2 separate regions of the Homo sapiens genome follow, and region 1 is linked to region 2. Evidence: fine-mapped expression QTL. A gene starts in region 2. The other region holds a variant in brackets. All regions are shown on one strand. Distances are from middle to middle.

Region 1 (8,000 bases), 73 kb after region 2:
CCTCCACCTCCACCTCCACCACTTGCTTGTTCATCTCTCACCTGGGCCAATGTCCAGCCTTCTAAGTGTTTCCCTTCTCCAAACTCTCCCTTCCCATTTGTCACCCTATAAGTAACCTGCCAGATTATTTTAAAGCACAGTGCTGAGGTCACACATGTACTGGCAACTTCTAATGCAAGACCGACTAGGGCTAGATCTCTTTGAGGCTCCCTGACCACACGTCCAACAACTCCTCCCTCAGTTCACAATTTCACTTCTCCTTATTTTCTCTTTCTCTTCCTGATCTGTTCTGTAAATTTAGTTTCTGCTGTGGAATTTGCTTGCTCCCTTCTTTAGTTCAAATCAGGCATTTGCTACCCCTCATGTCTGTGACACCGTGTTTATAGTTTATAAACCACTCTCAAAGCTATTTGTGGAGTACTGAGGTTAGCCCTGGACATGCTGTGGTGAGTAAAAACAGATGTGGCTGTGTTTCATGAATAAAGTCAACAAAATCTGTTGAGGACCCTGACCAAAAGTCATCTGTCCCAAAATCCTAAGTGGATTTGTGAGGAAAGATATTTTCCCATTGTCTCTCTTAACACTCTTCCCCCTGACTCCCAAACTATGGCCTCCCTGGGGTCATAGGAACAAAGTACAGAAGACAGAGAAGAAGACTGTGGCTTGCAGATTCTTAAAGAACTTTATTAACCTTGTGAGTGTCATAGAAGCAGCTACTGGGATGTTGCAAGCCCAGTGCAAACTGGTATATCTTGCTATATTGCAACATCTTGAATTTCCTTCCCTTTATATTAACTACCCACACATAATAAGCCACATCTATTATTTGTGTGAGCCTATGCTTTTTACTTTTATTTTAGAGCCTCTCGTTTCCTCATTTGTAATATGTGATCAGAAATCTGTCATTCTCGGCCTGCCGCGGTGGCTCACTGCTATAATCCCAGCATTTTGGGAGGCCAAGGCAGGCAGATCACTTGAGGTCAGGAGTTCAAGACCAGTGTGGCTAACATGGTAAAACCCTGTCTCTACTAAAAATACAAAAATTAGCTGGGCGTGGTGGCACATGCCTGTAGTCCCAGTTACTTGGGAGGCTGAGGCAGGAGAATCACTTGAACCAAGGAGGCATAGGTTGCAGTGAGCCGAGATCCCACCACTGCACTCCAGCCTGGGCCACAGAGTGAAACTCTGTCTCAAAAAAAAAAAATCTGTCATTCTCATAAGGTTGTTAGGATGATCAAACAAGATAAAGGTACATAAAAGAGCTCTATAGAATTATAATGTACAAGGCCGGGCACAGTGGCTCATGCCTGTAATCCCAGCACTTTGGGAGGCCGAGGTACGCGGATCAAAAGGTCAGGAGATCGAGATCATCCTGGCTAACACGGTGAAACCCCGTATCTACTAAAAATACAAAAAATTAGCCAGGCGTAGCAGCGTGCACCTGTAGTCCCAGCTGCTGGGGAGGCTGAGGCAAGAGAATGGCGTGAACCCGGGAAGCGGAGCTTGCAGTGAGCTGAGATCACGCCACACTGTACTCCAGCCTGGGCGACAGAGCAAGACTCTGTCTCAAAACAAACAAACAAACAAACAAACAAAAAGAATTATAATGTACAACATAAACGTATTTTATTTATTCTTTTTTTTTTTTTTTTTTTGAGACGGAGTTTCACTCTTGTCACCCAAGCTGGAGTGCAATGGCACAATCTTGGCTCACCACAACCTCCACCTCCTGGGTTCAAGTGATTCTCCTGCCTCAGCCTCCCAAGTAGCTGGGATTACAGGCGCCTGTCACCACGCCCAACTAACTTTTGTATTTTTAGTAGAGACAGGGTCTCGCCCTGTTGGCCAGGCTGGTCTTGAACTCCTGATCTTGGGTGATCCACCCCCTCGGCCTCCCAAAGTGCTGGGATTACAGGAATGAGCCACCACGCCCGGCTACTTTCTTCTTTAAATCAATTATATGGCCATTATTTATTTCATAAATAGGCATTCAGTGACTTTGAAATATTATGGTCCAGATAGAGACAACAGGGTTGTACAACAGAAATATGTAGGTCAAAATTTTAAATATTCTAGTAGTGACACTAAAAAATATAATAGATTGGCAAAATTTAGTAATCTATAATCTTGATCTACTACATCCAGAATGTTATTTCAACATGTGATTCATATAATAGTGACTAATGAGGTATCTTACACTCTTTTTTTGTAGTAAGTCTTTGAAATCCTGTGTGTATTCTACATTGACGGGACATCTCATTTTGGACTAACCACATTTCAAGTGCTCAGTATTCACATATGGATACTGTGCAGGACAGCACACACTAATTGGTAATGTAAATACAAGTTAGTTAAGATCTGTGAAGTACTTTATGGTTTCCAAAACTCTTTTGGCATTTAAATCTTGCGTCAGCCCCAGCAGGTAGATGTTTATCATTTCCATTTTGTAGAGGAGAGGCTGCAGCAATTACCTGTAAGTCACCCAAGCTCATCCAGCTAGTAAATGGTGAACTCAATTCTTGTCTTAAACCTGGGCACTTTCCCTTTTGCTTGCTTGCCTAAACAAGCAATACAAAGACAAACTTAATATTTATACACATACGTCCCATGGCTCATTGCAGTAGTACAGGACAGAAACAATTATTTCAAAATCCACCTACAATCTAGTCTCCAAAAATCCTGCCCAGTTTAATTGCACCACAATCTACTAACTGTAATTCTAAAAATGTGTATGTTGGATAATCTTCCAGCTCTAAAGTGCTGTGAATTAAAAAAATGCCATAGGCAGGCATAAAAAAATCCTACCCTCTATTATATTCTCCATCTGATATAGAATATATGATATATATTCTATAAATGAATACATGATACAGAGTCTATCATGTAGTGATTTACTTTTTACTTTTGTGAATTACAACGTGGTAGGGTAGGAAATGAGAAAGCTTAAAAAGCCTAATTTTCTCACTAAAGCATAACCAGACACAGCAGCCTATTAGGGGTTTCTCCAGAAGATGGCAGGCAGTCAAGGGGGACAGAGTTCGACCCGCGACAGGCCAACTGATTTCCCCAAAAAGATGCCAAGGGCAGCTAACCGCCCTCCTGGCCCGCGAAGCTGCTCCTTGAGGGCCCAAAACTTCCCGGAGGAGCCAGAGGAGGCCCTCAGGAGCCACAGCTCTCCCTGACTTGGCCTGTATTTGCACCCCTAGGGATCCCATTCCCTTTCCCGACGCAGCGCAAGGAAGGGGAGCGGAATGGGGGCTGAAAGGCAATAAAAAACTTGTAAAGCCGTATCTGCTAGTTCTCCCAGTGGGCTATGTCCCTGCAAATATCCTCCACAAGAAGTAAACTGGGTGGGTAGGAAGAGGTGAAGGCTCCCTCCTCAGGGCTGCCGGGACCGCCTCGAGGGCTTGTCTGTTTAGGTCCCAATTCCTCCCGGATCCGTACATTCACACGAGCGCAGGGCAACAATCTGAGCGAGTGTTCGTGTGTGCCCGTGTGACTCGCCATCGCGTGGCAGATGTTCAGTAGAACATTACAGTAATTTCTGTTACAGGTCCATGGGCGCAGGTCCCTGAGCCCACAGCTTCGCGGGGGTCTGGCCGAGCATGCGTCACAACCTACGCGGCCAAGAGCAGTGCGCACGCGCAACCTAACGCGGGACTGCCAGCAACTTCCGGGCGTTTACAGGCAGGCAGGTCAGTGATGTGTCCTAAGGGTCCGACCGACCTAGATACCCCTCTTTGATTCCTCCTCTTGGGATTAGTGTCCATCTCTGGAAGCAGGATCCAGGAGGACGGGAGGGGCCGCTGCGGACCGCAGTCGCTCCACCTGGAGGAGACACCAGAAGGAAGACAGCCTGAGGGACGCAGCCATCCCCGGCTCCTACCGGCGCCCCGCCCCGCGCATGCGCACGCGCACAGGGAGTCAGCTGGCTGCGCGGGAGGTCACGGGAAGTGGGGCGGTGCCCAGACAGCTGGAGGGAAGGAGGTGTCAGGCGGGGAGAGACGCAAACGGCGGGACCAGCAGCGACGGTAGCAGCAGCATGGCCGCGATCTATGGGGGTGTAGAGGGGTGAGTGCGGCCCGGCGGAGGGAGCCTGGGCCCGAAGGCGGGGCGGAAGGCCGTGGCCAGCCTGGCAAGCTGGTGGCCTTGATCCTCGGCGTCCGGGCACTTTGGGCGGCGGGACCTTGCGGTGAAGAGGTGTGTGCA[C/T]GCGCAGGGGCGCCCTGGAGCGCACAGCTGTATGCCTTACGGGGACTCTGCCTGTGCAACAGCCACACCCCGGGTTGGGGATCCTTTGTGTTTCTTGGCGGAACCACGCCCCTTTCTTCCACGAAACACCCACTCCGCTGTCTTCAGCTGGAGAAGCAGCTCCTTTTTCCTATTCCTGACCTCGGACAGAGTTTTGCAGAACAGGTGTCAGGTGTGAAATTGCTGAGCGCGGGCAGGGTGGGGAGTGGGAGTGGGGAGAAGCGGGACAAAGATCTTGGCTGAGGTTATCCGGGAGCTGGAGCAGCTGCGAGCCAGAGTACTAGGTTGTCCTGATGTCTGAAAACCGCTCCATCCCTGTTGGCCTTCCATGCTGCTTTCACTAGATTGCATTTTTCTGCTCAGAAGCTTGTTTACTGAACTTTTTGTAATAGCTCTGCCCCTGGGTATGACCATGGACAAGATATTTACCCTCCCTGGGCTACAGTTACCGTATGTGCAAAGTGAGGATAGGGATAAATAAGATCGCTATGTCCCTGCCAGTGGCAACATTCTGTGAATCTGAGTTTGTCAAATCAGGGAATAATGGGGGTCGCTGGCCTCTCAGCCAGGGCACTGTACTTTCGAATCTGTGATTGTTTTCACTTCTCTGGCAGCCACACCCCACTGCTGATTCACAGACCCCAAAGTCTTTTCACATGAATTGTTAGGAATGATCTTTCCCATCCTGTATTTGTAGCACTTAAAAAAAACAGTATAGGAGTCTGCATTCATCCTTGTTATAGTCATCTGTAAGATATGACCCGTTTCTTCCAGTTCGTCAAGACATGCTTTTGGATGTGGAATCTGCCACCTCATGTATTAACTACCCCCTTGAAATTTCATGTCCTCTTTGAGTTTGATGAGCGGTCTTCAGTGTCTTCTTCTGCCATTCCTAAAAGTAATGATCAATAAAGAAACATATATCCCATCACCACAGATCTCCCTGTGAACTACTGTGACCCCCAGTAATCAACATTTGAAGGTTTAGTTGCTTAAGTATGTATGAAGTCACCCTGCCATCTGGTCAGCATTTCTAGCAAAGGTGTCTTGAAGACCTTGGCAGCTGGATCTTGAAATGCAGTCTTTAGCTATTGTGAGGGAAGCAGAGAGATGTGCCATTTTTCTTAGGAGTGTTTGCTGAGCATTGCCTGTGCCAGCTCCTGTGCTCGTTCTGAGAGGGTAAGTAAGTGATCAGGAGCTTGACCCAGTGGAGCTTGAAGTCTAGTGAGAGGCGGACACAAAGCGTCTGAACACACACTTCATACAGAGGAGACTTTAATAACTTTGGAGGCACTATGAAGGTTTAACTAACGGAGACTTAACTAATTCGTTGGGGTGGGCCACACCTCAGAAAAGGTTTCGAGGACTAGGTGAAGCGTAAGTAGAGTCTTGCAGGATAAGGAGGACATCCCCAAGGGAAGAGGAGTGAGAATTATGTTTCAGTTAAAGAGCACTCAAACACTGAACCACAGAGGCGGGTTTGGGAGTGGTGATTGAGTTTGTCGAAGCTGTCTCCTCCATCATACTGGGCTCTGCCAGTGTGGACAGCACAAGCTTAGCTCTCTCTGTGGGTTTTTCCGAGCAAGATCAAGTGCCCTCTTGTGTTCTGTAGGGGAGGCACACGATCCGAGGTCCTTTTAGTCTCAGAGGATGGGAAGATCCTGGCAGAAGCAGATGGACTGAGCACAAACCACTGGGTAAAAACCACACTGAGGGGATCAGAGGGCTTGGTTCTGATTTTATTCTCTGTAATTCCTGTTGAGGTGGTGGCTGGGACTCACAGAGCAGCCTGTGGGGGCAACATAGCTTCTGTAAGCCTTTGTAACTCCTTCTTCCCTTGATTGGGGCCAGCTGATCGGGACAGACAAGTGTGTGGAGAGGATCAATGAGATGGTGAACAGGGCCAAACGGAAAGCAGGGGTGGATCCTCTGGTACCGCTGCGAAGCTTGGTGAGTCTGGGGCGGAGCCTGGGAATTCAGCCATCTGTGACACTGAGACAGCTAGCAAGTTTGGACTAGATGAGTTTGATGACTGCAGAGGGAAAGACCTCCAAGACTTAGTCCCTGGTGTCAAAACTGTCATAATCTCACCCAGTCTCATGGCTTCAGTTGCCACCTACAAACTACAAATGTGTTGGAAGAGCACAGGGCTTTGGAGAGCTGCTGAGACCTTGGTTTGAATCCCAGCTTTGCTGCTCAGTATCTGCGTAACCCTGTGTAGGTTACTCACCTTCTCTAAGCCTCAGTTTCCTCATTTGGAAAATGTGAATAGTAGCTACCTCAGAGTTGTTGGGAAAGTAAAATGGCATGATACATTGCAAAGTGGTTAGTATAGAGCCTGACCCATAAGCACTCATTAAATGTTAGCTATTATTTACTCCTGGTTCAGATCTTTCTCCCAAGTTGCGGTAGCTCCAGCTACTCCCTGGACATATATGTGAGATGTTCTGCAGACACAGGCAAACCTCGTGTATACCAAACCAAGCTTACCTCTCTCCATCTCCCCTCACCTTGCCCCGCTGCCTGATCTTTCTGTTAAGAGCACTACTGCCCTTCCAAGCTCCAAAGCTGGCATTGTTGAATCCCCTCTTTCTTCTGTCCATCCCCAGTCCAGGTTGTTCTTATAACCACAGCCTTCTGAGGGGTCATTGTGTGGGGAGAAAGGAGGACTGGGGCTGGGTGAACAGGGTATGGCCAGATGGGGAGAACAGGAATCAGGCATCAGGAGGGGGCGGGGGTTGAGAAAAGAGCTGGGGCTGGGGCTCTGCACACTCGCTCACCTCCCGCGTGGCCTAGGGCCTATCTCTGAGCGGTGGGGACCAGGAGGACGCGGGGAGGATCCTGATCGAGGAGCTGAGGGACCGATTTCCCTACCTGAGTGAAAGCTACTTAATCACCACCGATGCCGCCGGCTCCATCGCCACAGCTACACCGGATGGTGAGGAAGTGGAGGGAGGGGTGAGAGTGAGAACTGGTTTTTTTGGGAAAGCCCCTTAGATATAGCTGACAAAACTTGTTCTGCAAATATCCAGAAGGCAGCCACTCTTATATTCCCCTCAACTCTTTAAGTAGTTTAAGTCTCTGCCAGAGCAAGGACCAGGCAGCAGGAGGAAGGGCAAGAAAGGTCTCTTGATGGGAATCCAGGAGTGGGGTCAAACATAACTCCCCTGCAGATGAGGGACCACCTGGGGGCGGTGTAGTGAGGAAGGCAGGCTGGGGAAGCTGTCAGTGCTGAGGAGGAAGTGGGGTGGCCTTGTGATAGTGTAAAGAGTTTTGGTGTCATGGGATTGGTGTTTGAATCCCAGTTCCTGTTTTGCCTGCTATACCATGTTGGCGAAGTTCCAAAACTCTGAGTTTCAGTTTTCTCATCTATAAAATAGAGGAAGTTGTATTCATAAGATGGTTTAGGGTATGAGTGAATATCACTGTGAGAACGGGTCTAGCACAATCCCAGTAAAGCAGGTAGAGTCACTGGAAGACCGGCTGGGCAAGGAGCCACATTCCCTCTAAGAGGTGCAGGCTTGCATTTCTCTTTGTCCCCCTAGACGAGGGCGTTATGGGATTAGAGTTTTTCTGAGACCCAGGCTCTCACCCTCAGGCAGGAAACTAGCTGGGCTCAGTTTTCTCCTCTACAGGACTGGGTGGTGATTCCCTTGCCTGGGGCTGTTTTCTGTCCTGTCTTTCCACAGTGGCAAGCTGTTGCTCTGTGCCAGGCCTCGGCCACACTGAGCCTCCTATTCCCTTTCCCCAGG
Region 2 (12,227 bases):
GTCACCCTAGTACCCCTTCCTGACCTCAGGATGACCCCTCGAGGGGGACCCAAAGGACTCACTGAGGAAGAGCAGTGTCCTCCCCACCTCGGCCAAATGAGCACAGTCTGTCCCCATCCACACAGCTTTCTCAAACCATCTATGTTTTGTTTTTTTCAAACATGTAATCCTTGAACAGATTCAGTTTCAAATCATAGCTAAGTTTATAAAGTAAACCATGCAAGTTCCCTTTTACTACCCTGTCCCTGTTAACAGCTGAATGTGCTGGACACTTCTTACCTCTGAGAAGGGATAATATTCTTCTGCAAAAAACTGAAATGCTAGGTAATGATTCACCACCACTAGTCCTGTTGAGGGAATGAAGAGTCAGTCAGTTTAAGGGGAATAACAGAAAGCTGTACTTTTAACTTCAAAAGGCCCTCAGAAGTTGGGAGCCTCCATGGAGTCTTAGGCCTGACTTTACACTCAACTCAGAGTAGGCTACTGCCTAGAACCGTTTCCCATCTGCTAAAATGGGAGAATGAGCCTCAACCTGCCCACTGCACAGGGCATTCTGAGTAAAATTAGAAGAAGGCTCTTTGCATGTTATAAAAGTGAGACTTCTATGTTACATAATCCAAAGCATCATGACGATGAACCTCGTTTTTCGTGGATGTGAGGGCTAAAGAAAGCTCTCCCACAGTGACAGGTGGGGAGAAATCATGGGTGTGCAGACCAGACGCCCCTAAGAGGCTCTACTCCAAACTCGCAGCAAGGAGAAGGCCTGCTCAAATAAACAAACTGGGCAGCAAGGAGAAGGCCTGCTCAAATAAAAAGGCTCTCACTCCTCAGGAATAAAAGGGCAAGACTTGCTAGATGCTTTGAGGTGCAGTCTTCAGGTTCCTCAACATTCTGGGGGAGGGGGTCCCTCCTCATCCTGCCCCCAGGTAAGGCATACCGGTGTGAACTGATACGTTCTGGACACACACACACACACAGCCACCCCTCCTTGGTGTGTAACTGAGTTTATAAAAGAGGGCACGTGTGCATATCCTGGACACAGGCTGCTCAAGAGACAGTCATCCCTGCCGGTTCCCATGGTGAGGTGAAGGGCAGGCACCAGAAAGAACATGTCCCCTGAAACTGACTGTCCCCTCACACACACCTCACAGCAATTCTCATGTCTCCTTTCTTCTCTCCTGCCTCTCCCATTCTAAGGCAAAGACTACAGTTCTGCTATGCCTAGCCACACTCTAGGGCTAAGAGATAATGGGAGGTAGGATAGTGCCTGGTGCCCACAAGATCTTTTGGAAAAACTCTTTTAGGCATTAAAGGGCAGATCAAGGGAGTGAAGTCAGGGGAGCCTGCTGCTGAGGGGCTGGGGGCAGGACTTCTTCCCTGGACAGAGGGGCCTGGTCTCCATGGAAGGGCTCCCTAACAAACCTCTGCTGAACAAATTCTTTGGTGAAATCACACCCAAGGAAGAAACCAGTTTTGGCTTTAACAATATGCCCTTTGTGTGGATAATATTCACCCTCCAGGCTCTCTCATAGAAATAGAAAAGTCACTCTAAAAAACCCCTAACTCCATCTGATACCCTGACTGAAAGCTAGGGTAGCCAGCAATGATGAACAGGAGCAATGGCAATCTTGGCAACCAAAATACTTTCCGAAGCCTTTTCCAGGAATATCTGTAAATACCTATATGCACCTACTATATGCCCACTGAGTCTCCCAATAGTTCTTTCAGAAACATCCTCTCTGAATAGATGGAGAAGCTAAGGCCCAGAGAGGGCCAATGATTCCCCAGGGTCAGAAAGTGGTGGCAGGGCAACGCCAAGAAGACTGGGTCCTCCACATCCAGGCTCAAGCCCGAGGCAGCGGCAGCCAGTGAGAATGAGATGAGAAGCTGCAGCCCCCAGGAGGCATTCACACCAGGCCAGAGTCTGCAAGGTGCTCACAGCCCCATGAGGCTCCAGTCCTAACAATGACTTTGGGTCAGAGGACTGGACGGACAGCTGCCTGCCTACCGGAAGGGCTTTGGGCTTTTTCTGGCCAAGTGGTTTTTTTGAGGCTGGAACTGCTCAGTTGGGGGCCCTGCCTCAGCCAATCCACAACCTCTTCTTTCCCAAACTCTCCTTCAAACTTACCTCTCTGGGAAAGCCCTCCCTGTCTGAGTCCCCAGCCCCAACAAATTCTATTCACTAGAGCCAAGGTGGGCTCTAGAGTCCTCAGCAGTAAGAACCGCATCTTCCCAACTAGCCTGGCTTCCTGGAGGACTTCAACAGCTGGCTTCCTTTTTCTGTATCCCCTTTAGTGCCCAGGATGGAGATGGGCACACCCAACCACATCAGCTGCCTCCCCAACTCTGTCCCCTCTCACCACACGACAGGATGAAGTTAGGCGAGGTCAGCATGATGAAGGGGAAGGTCTGGAGGAGGCCAAAGTAGACGAGGTTGGTGAATAGGCCCACTCCAATCATGCTGGTGGGGAAGCGCTCAAAGACGTAGAGGCCAATCAGTACAGCGGTGGAGAACTGAAACAACCAGAGGCAGACAGTGCAGGGCGCTTCTTCCAGGCAACGTTCCTGGACTCACCAACCCCCAGCCCGCTCTGGGCAGCACTAGGTTCATGCTTCAATCTCCTCATTTCACAGGTCTGGCCTCCCCAGCTAGGTTCTCTGCTCCCAAAAGGCAACATTTTTTTTTTTTTTTTTGAGACGGAGTCTCACTCTGTCATCCAGGCTGGAGTGCAGTGGCGCGATCTCCTGGATTCAAGCAATTCTCTTGCCTCAGCCTCCTGAGTAGTTGGGACTACAGGCATGCACAACCACGCCCAGCTAATTTTTGTGTCTTTAGTAGAGACAGGGTTTTGCCATGTTGGCCAGGCTGGTCTCAAACTTCTGATGGCCTCCCAAAGTGCTGGGATTACAGGTGTGAGCCACCGCACCCAGCCCATTTCTCAAACTTTTTGACAGCAACCCACAGTAAGAAAAACATCTGCCAGGCGAGGTGGCTCACGCCTGGAATCCCAACACTTTGGGAGGCCAAGGCAGGCAGATCACCTGAGGTTGGGAGTTTGTGACCAGCCTGACCAACATGGAGAAACCCCATCTCTACTAAAAATACAAAATTAGCCAGGCATGGTGGCACATGCCTATAATCCCAGCTACTCGGGAGGCTGAGGCAGGAGAATCGCTTGAACCCAGGAGGCAGAGGTTGCGGTGAGCTGAGATTGTGCCACTGCACTCCAGCCTGGGTAATAAGAGCGAAACTCCATCTCAAAAAAAAAAAAAGAAAAAGAAAAACATTTTACACTGTGACCCCAACACATATATACATATATATGATTCAAAGCTCAAATTTCAATTCTATTTATGTTCCTTTTTTTAAAAAATGCTGATTGTGACCTACTATACAGCCAAATAATGAATCATGCCTACAGTTTGAAAAACACTACTGATAAGTACCTACAGTTGTCAGTGCTTAGCAAATGACAGTTGGCTGAATGAAGGGCTAATTACTGTGCCAACACCCACAAGCTGGGCCTCTGGACCAGAGCTGAGGGCTATAGTCTTGCCTCCACTGTGAACTCCCAACCTCAGCCATGCCCAGAGTGCACATGGCTGCTGACACCAGGCGACTTGAGGGGCTGTGGACGCTTTCTCTCCAATGGCACCCCTACCCCCAGCCTTTCCTGCAGCTGAAGGAAGTCTGTCCACCAGCAGTCACCCCTATGGCTTTGATATCAGTGGCAAGGACTGTGTCTTCAGTAAGAGAAGCCTCCCATGAGACCAGGGAAGGGCGAGGGCAGCGAAGCTGTGCCGATCTTAGGACAAATCACTTGATCCGATTAGAAAGATGGCAATGAACATATATGCAAAACTGTCTTATGGCTCCTCTAAGTTTTAAATGCTGTGAGCAGAGCAAAGGGCTAAAGACAGCGGGAGAGAGCTAAGCAAAGTCAAATCTACGGTCTTGTCAACAGAGAAGTACACTTCGCTGTCACCTTAAGGACTAGAGCACAAGGCCTGCAGTGAAACAATGCCACTTGGGGAAGGCGGCCAGGGAAGATCTGGGCCCAGGAGTGCAGACCCAAAAGACAGCGTTCAGGGCAAGGAGGTAAGAGTGTATGCTCAGGAAACAGCAGAGACACAGGCCTCATCATCCATGCCAAACTCTCCCCACTTCCTGCTTTTGAGGCAGGGCAAAAGAGTGAGGAGGACTCCTGGAGAAAGATGCCACTTACCCAGATCATGTATTTTATGATCCTGCTGGTGGCCACTGTGTATTCTTCTATCAGTTCTGCCAGGTAATAGAGTCCAGCCGCTGCAGGGTGGGAGGCAGGGAGACTATCAGCCAGGGTCACTCCCACCATCCTGGTCACCCCTCTCTCTGCAGCCCAGTCCCCATCCACCCTTCATGGACCCCAGAAGGTCAAGAACAAACCAAACATCCCATGTGTTGCCCTTCCAAGTCTGGAGAAGTAAAACTTTCTTAGGGCAACTAAGGACAAATCTCATAAAAATCAACGAAAGTCTGCATTTGATGCCACAGTACAATGATAACCTCTGGCTCAGAAAACGGAATTTCACGTATTCAATAAACACCTGCTGGGCACTTGGCATGAGCCAGGTCCCTGGGCTGAGAATACAGCTGAAAAAGACAGACAAGGGTCCTTCCCTGACCCAGCTTGGGAAAGGGAAGGGGAACAGTAGGGAGAGACAGACGAGTTTAGTGTGAGAAATGCTACTTTAGGGAAAGGACAGGGCACTGCTGGACCATCAACCCCTGTGGACTTCCCGGAAAAGATGACATCTCAACTGAGGCCGAATGGGAACCAGCCAGAGGAGAAGTGTCAAAGGTGGAGAGAGCAGGGAGCATGAAGGGCCAGAGGCGCAAAGGCGGCGGTAGGCGTTGGGGAAAAGTTCCGCGCGGCAGGCCCGCGAAGAGTGGGAGCCGCAGCGGTTAGCGGTCCGCAGACGCGGGGGCGGCACTCGAGTCACCCTTTCTCGGGCAGTGCCGGAGCGGACTCTGTGACACCTGGAAGGAGCCACGGTCAGGCCGGGCTGCCAGGCTCGACAGGAGGGGCAGGATCAGGCGGGAAGGGGTTGGGGCGGCGAAGGCCGGGAGCGCCGGGCAGTGGTCCCCCGAGTGGCTCCGAAACCCCCGCGATGCGACCCCCAACGAGCACCGATGCCGGGGCGGGAGCCCGCGCGGGCCGGGGTCGTGCAGTCTCACCGACAGCCAGCGTGATGAAGGCCACCTGGATGAAGAGCGACAGCCAGCTCAGCAGGTACATGAACCACATGGCGCCCCCACCCGCCCGCTCCCCGGCCACCGGGACGGGCCTGCGCGCTTCGGCTCCGGCGACACACAGCCGCCACCGCCGCCGCCGCCGCCGCGTCCCCGCCCCGCGGACGACAGGACGACGGTGCGCCGCCGCCGAGAGGAGCCCGGCCCTAGCGCTGCCCGGGGCCAGGCTCGCGCTAGCGCCGCCCGCCGGAGAGGAGGGCCAACCGCCGCTGCCCCGCCAGGATCCCCCGCTCCACTGAGGGGAATGAATGCAGACCGCTGCAGCCAGAGGGAGGCGGGACGGTGCCCAGGGGCGGAGACGACCAAGCGCCCATACTGGGGCTCGGAGTGCAGCCTCCAGTCCCTCCCTGTGCACTCCCGTACCAGCCTGGAGGTGGTCCAGGGCCGGACAGGGCCGCCCGACCGCGCCCCAGCAACCTCCCCAGAACCTGCCTCCCGGCAGGTTGCGGACAAGTCTGTCTCTTGCTATCGCAGGTGATAGGGACAAAATTATTGAATTCCTAATATGTGCCACGCTCTGTGATAAAGGCGAGGTGTGTTCTTGTCGGAAATTTGAGCAGATAATGTAAATCATTTTATAGACGGGGAAGCCGGGGCCAAAGGAAGTTGCCCTGGGTCATGCACCTAGGAAGCGGCACAATCAGGAGTTGGGGTGATTTTAATCGGTCATCCTCCGGCCTAATTCCCCTCTAGGCTGTTCTTTTGGGGTACATTCTGCACCTTTGTATCGCCTGCACCTCACCCCTTGCCGGGCACGCAGGGCGTCCGCTAGGCGCTGGATGCATTTACTACACCTCTGGGAGGGTTCCTGAGGGGCACCTGGAACCGGTTAGTCCTTGTCAACAAGTCTCCCATCTAGTGGCGGAGACAGGCATGCAAAATAAAGTATGTAGAACAAGAGTCTAGTAGGCTTATTTCAGAATCATATTTTTCCTGCATAAAAATACGTATTCCTAAAAAAAACAATTACCGTATGATTTAGCAATTCTACTTCTGGGTATATACCCAAAAGAACTGAGAAAGCAGAGACATTTGTATACCAATATTCATAGCATTATTCACAATGGTCAGAAGAGGGAAGCAACCCAAATGTCCATCGGTTGACGAAAAGATAGACATAAAGTGCTATAAACATACAATGGAATATTATCTAGCCTTAAAATGAAGTGAAATTCTGACACATGCTACAACATCAATGAACCTTGAAGGCATGATGCTAAGTGAAATAAGCCAAATAGGGAAGGACACACATTGTATGATTCCCCTCATATGAGGTACCCAGAGTAGTCAAAATCATGGGCAGAAAGTTAAATGGTGCTTGCCAGGGTCTGGGGGACAAAGAATGGGGAGTTACTTTTTAATGGATACAGGGTTTCAGTTTGGGAAGATGGATGGTGCTGATGGCATCACAACAGTGTGAATGTGCTTAATGTCACTGAATTGTATACAGTGTTACAGAATTGTAAAATGGTTAAAACGGTCAATTTTATGTTATGCATAGCTTCCCCCTCCCCCCAACAAAATACATAAGATTACAAAGCCCATCCTGGCTAACACGGTGAAACCCAGTCTCTACTAAAAATACAAAAAATTAGCCGGGCTTGGTGGCGGGCGCCTGTAGTCCCAGCTACTCAAGAAACTGAGGCAGGAGAAGAGCGTGAACCCGGGAGGCAGAAGTTGCAGTGAGCCGAGATTGCGCCACTGCACTCCAGCCTGGGCGACAGAGCGAGACTCCGTCTCAAGAAAAAAAAAAAAAAAAAGATTACAAAGCAGGCTGGGCACAGTGGCTCATGCCTGTAATCCCAGTACTTTGGGAGGCTGAGGTAGGAGGATCACTTGAGGCCAGGAGTTCAAGACCAGCCTGGGCAAAGAAAAATTTTAAAATGGCCAGGCATGGTGGTGCGTACCTGTAGTCGCAGTTACTCTGGGCTGAGGCAGGAGGATTACTTGAGTCCAGGAGATGGCGGCTGCAGTGAGCTATGATTGGGCCACTGCATTCCAGCTGGGATGACAGAATGAAAACTTGTCTCAAAAAAAAAAAAAATTGCAGTTGCCGGGCGCGGTGGCTCACGCCTGTAATCCCAGCACTTTGGGAGGCCGAGGCGGGAGGATCACGAGGTCAGGAGATTGAGACCATCCTGGCTAACACGGTGAAACTCTGTCTCCACTAAAAAATACAAAAAAAAAAATTAGCCGGGCATGGTGGCGGGCGCCTGTAGTCCCAGCTACTCAGGAGGCTGAGGCAGGAGAATGGCGTGAACCCGGGAGGCGGAGCTTGCAGTGAGCCGAGATCGCGTCACTGCACTCCAGCCTGGGGGACAGAGGGAGACTCCGTCTCAAAACAAAAACAAAAACAAAAATAAAACAAAAAAGATTACAAAGCAAACCAATTATATAGAAATGCAAGTATTAAACTATTTTTAGAAAACCAAATGTATTCTGTAATTTATGTGCTTCTCTATTAATATATGACATAAGCAGACCTATTGCAAAATCTAATAGCTACCTACCACAATGACAAAGTAGGAGTGAGGGTAAATGATATTTCAAGATATCATTAATCATATGAGAGAGTTATAGATAAAAATAGAAACTTTTCTCCTTCCAAGTTTCCAGGCGTCTTAAAATTGTCTCCCTAAATTCTATACCTGCTGACTTCTAAGGGGTCCCTGGACCCCCAGTTAAGAATACCTGAGAGATATGTATATGGGGCATGGTGGGGTGGCTCACGCCTATAATCCTAGCACTTTGGGAGGCCTAGGCAGGAGAATTACTTGAGCCTAGGAGTTCAAGATTGACCTAGACAACAAAGTGAGACCCCATCTCTACAAAAAATTTAGAAGTTATCCAGGTGCAATGGTGCCGGTAGTCCTGGCTACTCAGGAGTCTGAGGTGGGAGATCGCTTGAGCCTGGGAGTTCAAGGTTGCAGTGAACCAGGATCACACCACTGCACTCCAGCCTGGGTGACAGAGTGAGACCTTAAAGGGCTATATCCTTTTTTTTTTTTTTTTTGAGATGGAGTCTTGTTCTGTTGCCCAGGCTGGAGTGCAGTGGCACGATTTCAGCTCACTGCAACCTCTGCCTCCTGGGTTCAACCGATTCTCCTGCCCCAGCCTCCTGAGCAGTTGGGATTACAGGTGCCCACCACCACATCCAGCTAATTTTTGTATTTTTGTAGAGATGGGATTTCGCCATGTTGGCGAGGCTGGTCTCAAACTCCTGACCTCAAGTAACCCACACACCTTGGCCTCCCAAAGTACTGGGATTACAGTTATGAGCCACTGCACCCGGCCTCACCATATGCTTATTTACAAGGCTTTTCATTGCAGCACTGTAAGAGACTGAAAACAACCTAAGTGTTCATTGATAGGAAACTGGTTAAGTATATTTAGCCCTAAAAGCCAATGAGGGTGTTCTTTATGTACCTATATAGGACTATTTTTGAAAAAAAGCAAAAGAATGGGGAAAAGAATCTATATACACATTTTTTGCAGGGAGGGACAGGGTCTCACTCTGTCACCCAGGCTGGAGCACAGTGACAAGATCATGGCTCACTGCACCCTCAACCCACAGGGCTCAAGACATCCTCCCACTTCAGCCTCTCAAGTAGCTGGGACTACAAGTGCATGCCATAACACCTGGCTGATTTTTTTATTTTTATTTTTTGTACAGATGAGGTCTCATTATGCTGTCCAGGCTGGTCTTGAACTCCTGGGCTCAAGCAATCCTCCTGCCACAGCCTCCCAAAGTAGTACTTTGGTAATACAGGCATGAGCCACGTCACCCAGGCTACACATTTCTTTCTATAAAATATCTCTGGAAGGATACGTTAGAAAACAGTAATATTGCTTGCTTCCTAGGAAGAGAAGGGGTGGGGTTTCAGAGTAGGAAACAGCATTCCCACTGTATGTCTTTTTATATCCTTAAAATATTGAACTATGTAAAGATATGGAAAGGTGTTACCTATTCATAAATGAAGTTTACAATTAAAATGTTCATAATATGATGGGCCTGCTAGGATGTCTCCAATTTCCTGTTGTTACCCAGTCCCTATGTGAGGAAAAACCATTGAGTTGTGCCTTACTGGTAAGTTTGCTAACCTTAGGTCATGGGACTTGGTCATCCCTGATTGTTCCAATAGGGGAGCTTCATGTCCAGATCTTTTCTATTGAGGAGTTTGTATTGGAGACACGGAAGCATCAGTGAGTAACGGCACAGTAAAGTATCTCTCTCTCACTCTCTCTCTCTCTCTCTGTCTCTCTCATTTATTTACTTATTTGACATGGAGTCTTGCTCTGTTGCCCAGGCTGGAGTGCAGTGGCACAATCTCAGCTCACTGCAACCTCCGCTTCCCGGGTTCAAGCAATTCTCCTGCCTCAGCCTCCCAAGCAGCTGGTATTACAGGCATTCACCACCATGCCCAGATAATTTTTATATTTTTGTAGAGATGGAGTTTTGTCATGATGGCCAGGCTGGCCTCAAGTGATCCACCTGCCTCAGCCTCCCAAAGTGCTGGGATTACAAGCATGAGACACCACACCCAACCAGTAAAGTCTCAATTGGTATTTTTTTTTCCCTAAACATCTTCCCAGGGAAGGAGGAAACTATAAAAATATCCCCCATCCCTCTCCAGAATTGTAGATAAGGGAAACTGGAGGCCCCAAAAGGTTAAGTGCTTTCACCTTTGAACCAGCCTTGTTTTTCCAGGGCTGGGCACTTTCACTTCCCACAGTTTTAAAGCCAAAAGTAGCCTGAGAGAGGTAAGGCTGAGGATTCAAATTTCCTCCGATGGCAGGAAGAGAGAGGCCACCATTTCCTGAGAGTGGTGAGAAGTCAGGTCCACCTGACCCAACAGGACAGGGCGGGGCTCAGGGAGGATCCTTAGGCTGTGTTTGGGGAAGGAGTTACAAGGGGAGCAAACCCAGGCCTTGCCTGAAGGAGGGAAGGAAGGATAGCAGGTCCCCACACTCAATTCAAGGGACTCATTTCAAGAGTGAAAGGGTTTGGAGGTTCAAAGGTGACTGACCAGTTTGTTGATTTAAATATTGACAGGTGGCCGGGCATGGTGGCTCACATCTGTAATCCCAGCAATTTGGGCACTGAAGCAGGAGGATTGCTTGAGCCCAGGAGTTCAAGACTAGCCTGGGAAACATAGTGGGACCCCATCTCTACAAGAAATAAAAAAAATTAGCTGGGCATGGTGGCACACACTTGTGGTCCTAGCTACTTGAGAGGTGCAGGTGGGAGGATCCCTTGAGCCCAGGGGGTTGAACCTGCAATAAGCCATGTTTGCACCACTGCCCTCCAGCCTGAGTGACAGAGTGAGACCTTGTCTCCAAAAAACCCCACAAGGGCCGGGCACGATAGCTCATTCCTGTAATACCAGCACTTTGAGAGGCCGAGGCGGGTGGATCACCTGAGGTCGGGAGTTCGAGACCAGCCTGACCAACATGGAGAAACCCCCGTCTCTACTAAAAATTAAAAAAATTAGCCGGCTTGGTGGCGCATGCCTGTAATCCCAGGTACTCGGGAGGCTGAGGCAGGAGAATCACTTGAACCCAGGAGGTAGAGGTTGAGGTGAGCCAAGATCGCGCCATTGCACTACAGCCTGGGCAACAAGAGCGAAACTCCATCTCAAGGGAAAAAAAAGAAAAAGAGAGAAAAAAAAACCACACACAAATGTTACCATTTAATGTTTGTAGGGTGAAGGACCAACTCCGTATATTTCATGAGAGGGTTCTAGGGGAAACTAGTTATTTCAACATAATAGGTGTCTCTGCTTCAGAAAACAAAGACCAAATTTCTTTTCAGGTTTTTGGCTGAGATGAAGTGCAGAAAGCAATAATTGCTAGCATTTATAGTGTTCTTTCTCTGTGTCAGACACTGCTCTATGTGATTTGTATGTACTAACCTATTTAATACACACATCTAGCACAGGCGATACTATTACTGTCTCCATCACAGCTAAGAAACCAAGGCACGGAGAGGTTCAATATCTTGTCCAAAGTCATACCACTAATATTTTAAGCAGCCAGGGGTCAAACCGGGGCAGGCTGGCTCCGGAGTCCACATGGTTTTCTCTGGTCTTTCTGAGTTGAGTCACCTGACTTTGCAGTTAGGGTGATTCTGCCTGCCTTGTCATCAGGTGCCATTTGGCCAGTGGGCTGGGTCCTGCCTCATCTCCCTGCAGGCTGCCTGGTCCCCCGGGCTTTTCCTCTTCTCCCCTGCCTTTATCCTTGCAGGAACAAATGAATACACCTCAGGGTTCTGGCTTTGACCACCCCTGGTCCCCTCCACTGTCTTCACCCACTCCCCTTCTCATTCTAACAGACTTACACATTCACTATGCCTGAGGCCAAGGACATCCTTAGTAGGATCTGTGGTCCCAGTGGTCCACCCACACGCTGGGGACCTGCACATCCCCAGGGGCTAGGAAGGTGCGGGGAGGTGGAAGTAGGAGGCGGTACGGCCGGAAGTCGGCCGCCAAAGTTCCCCTTGCCGGGCTGTGTTGGCTGCTGCCCTCTAGTGGCGACCAGAGGAGCTGGCGAGGACCGAAGCCAGGTTCATCGCTTATGGAAAGCAGTTTTGAGAGACAGTGGGGACCCCACTACCCGACTCATGAAGGCCAGGTGGGCAGGCCCCGAGAGTACACACAGCCGACACCCACCCACCACACACACACAGTACACAAAATTGTAGACAGGGTCCACCTCGGCATCAGGGCTCCTGCTGCCCCGGCATGGTCTGGCTACAGACGATGGTTGTTGTGTGAGAGACTGTGAGAGACACTGTGAAATCAGACATGGCAGAGACAGGCCTGGAGGCCCAGGGCCCTCCCTCTGCCTAGTCTTCTCCTCCCCCGGTGTGGCTCTTACCTGGACCTGAACTCCTTCCCCACCAGCTCCCCAGGCCTCCCAGGAGCACAGCTTTGGG

The links. PIP is the estimated chance that this variant, and not a neighbour inherited with it, causes the effect.
Region 1: its variant is fine-mapped to the expression of TEX261 in whole blood (TOPMed, PIP above 0.99).

The regions. Positions count from the first base shown.
Region 1 is chr2:71,064,642-71,072,641 of GRCh38, forward strand. It overlaps NAGK (N-acetylglucosamine kinase), which reads left to right and starts at 4,007. Exons shown (of 10, transcript NM_017567.6): 1 at 4,007-4,071; 2 at 5,861-5,945; 3 at 6,100-6,198; 4 at 7,045-7,186; 5 at 8,000. The coding sequence starts at 4,043. RefSeq lists a silencer at 4,233-4,292 and enhancers at 7,747-7,826, 7,857-7,916. The variant C/T (reference allele first, on the strand shown) is at 4,210.
Region 2 is chr2:70,989,470-71,001,696 of GRCh38, forward strand. It overlaps TEX261 (testis expressed 261), which reads right to left and starts at 5,404. Exons shown (of 6, transcript NM_144582.3): 1 at 5,219-5,404; 2 at 4,227-4,306; 3 at 2,361-2,514; 4 at 280-347. The coding sequence starts at 5,288. LOC105374796 (a long non-coding RNA gene) reads left to right here and starts at 11,789. Exons shown (of 2, transcript XR_940232.3): 1 at 11,789-11,923. RefSeq lists silencers at 4,976-5,065, 5,096-5,625 and enhancers at 6,166-6,215, 11,339-12,227.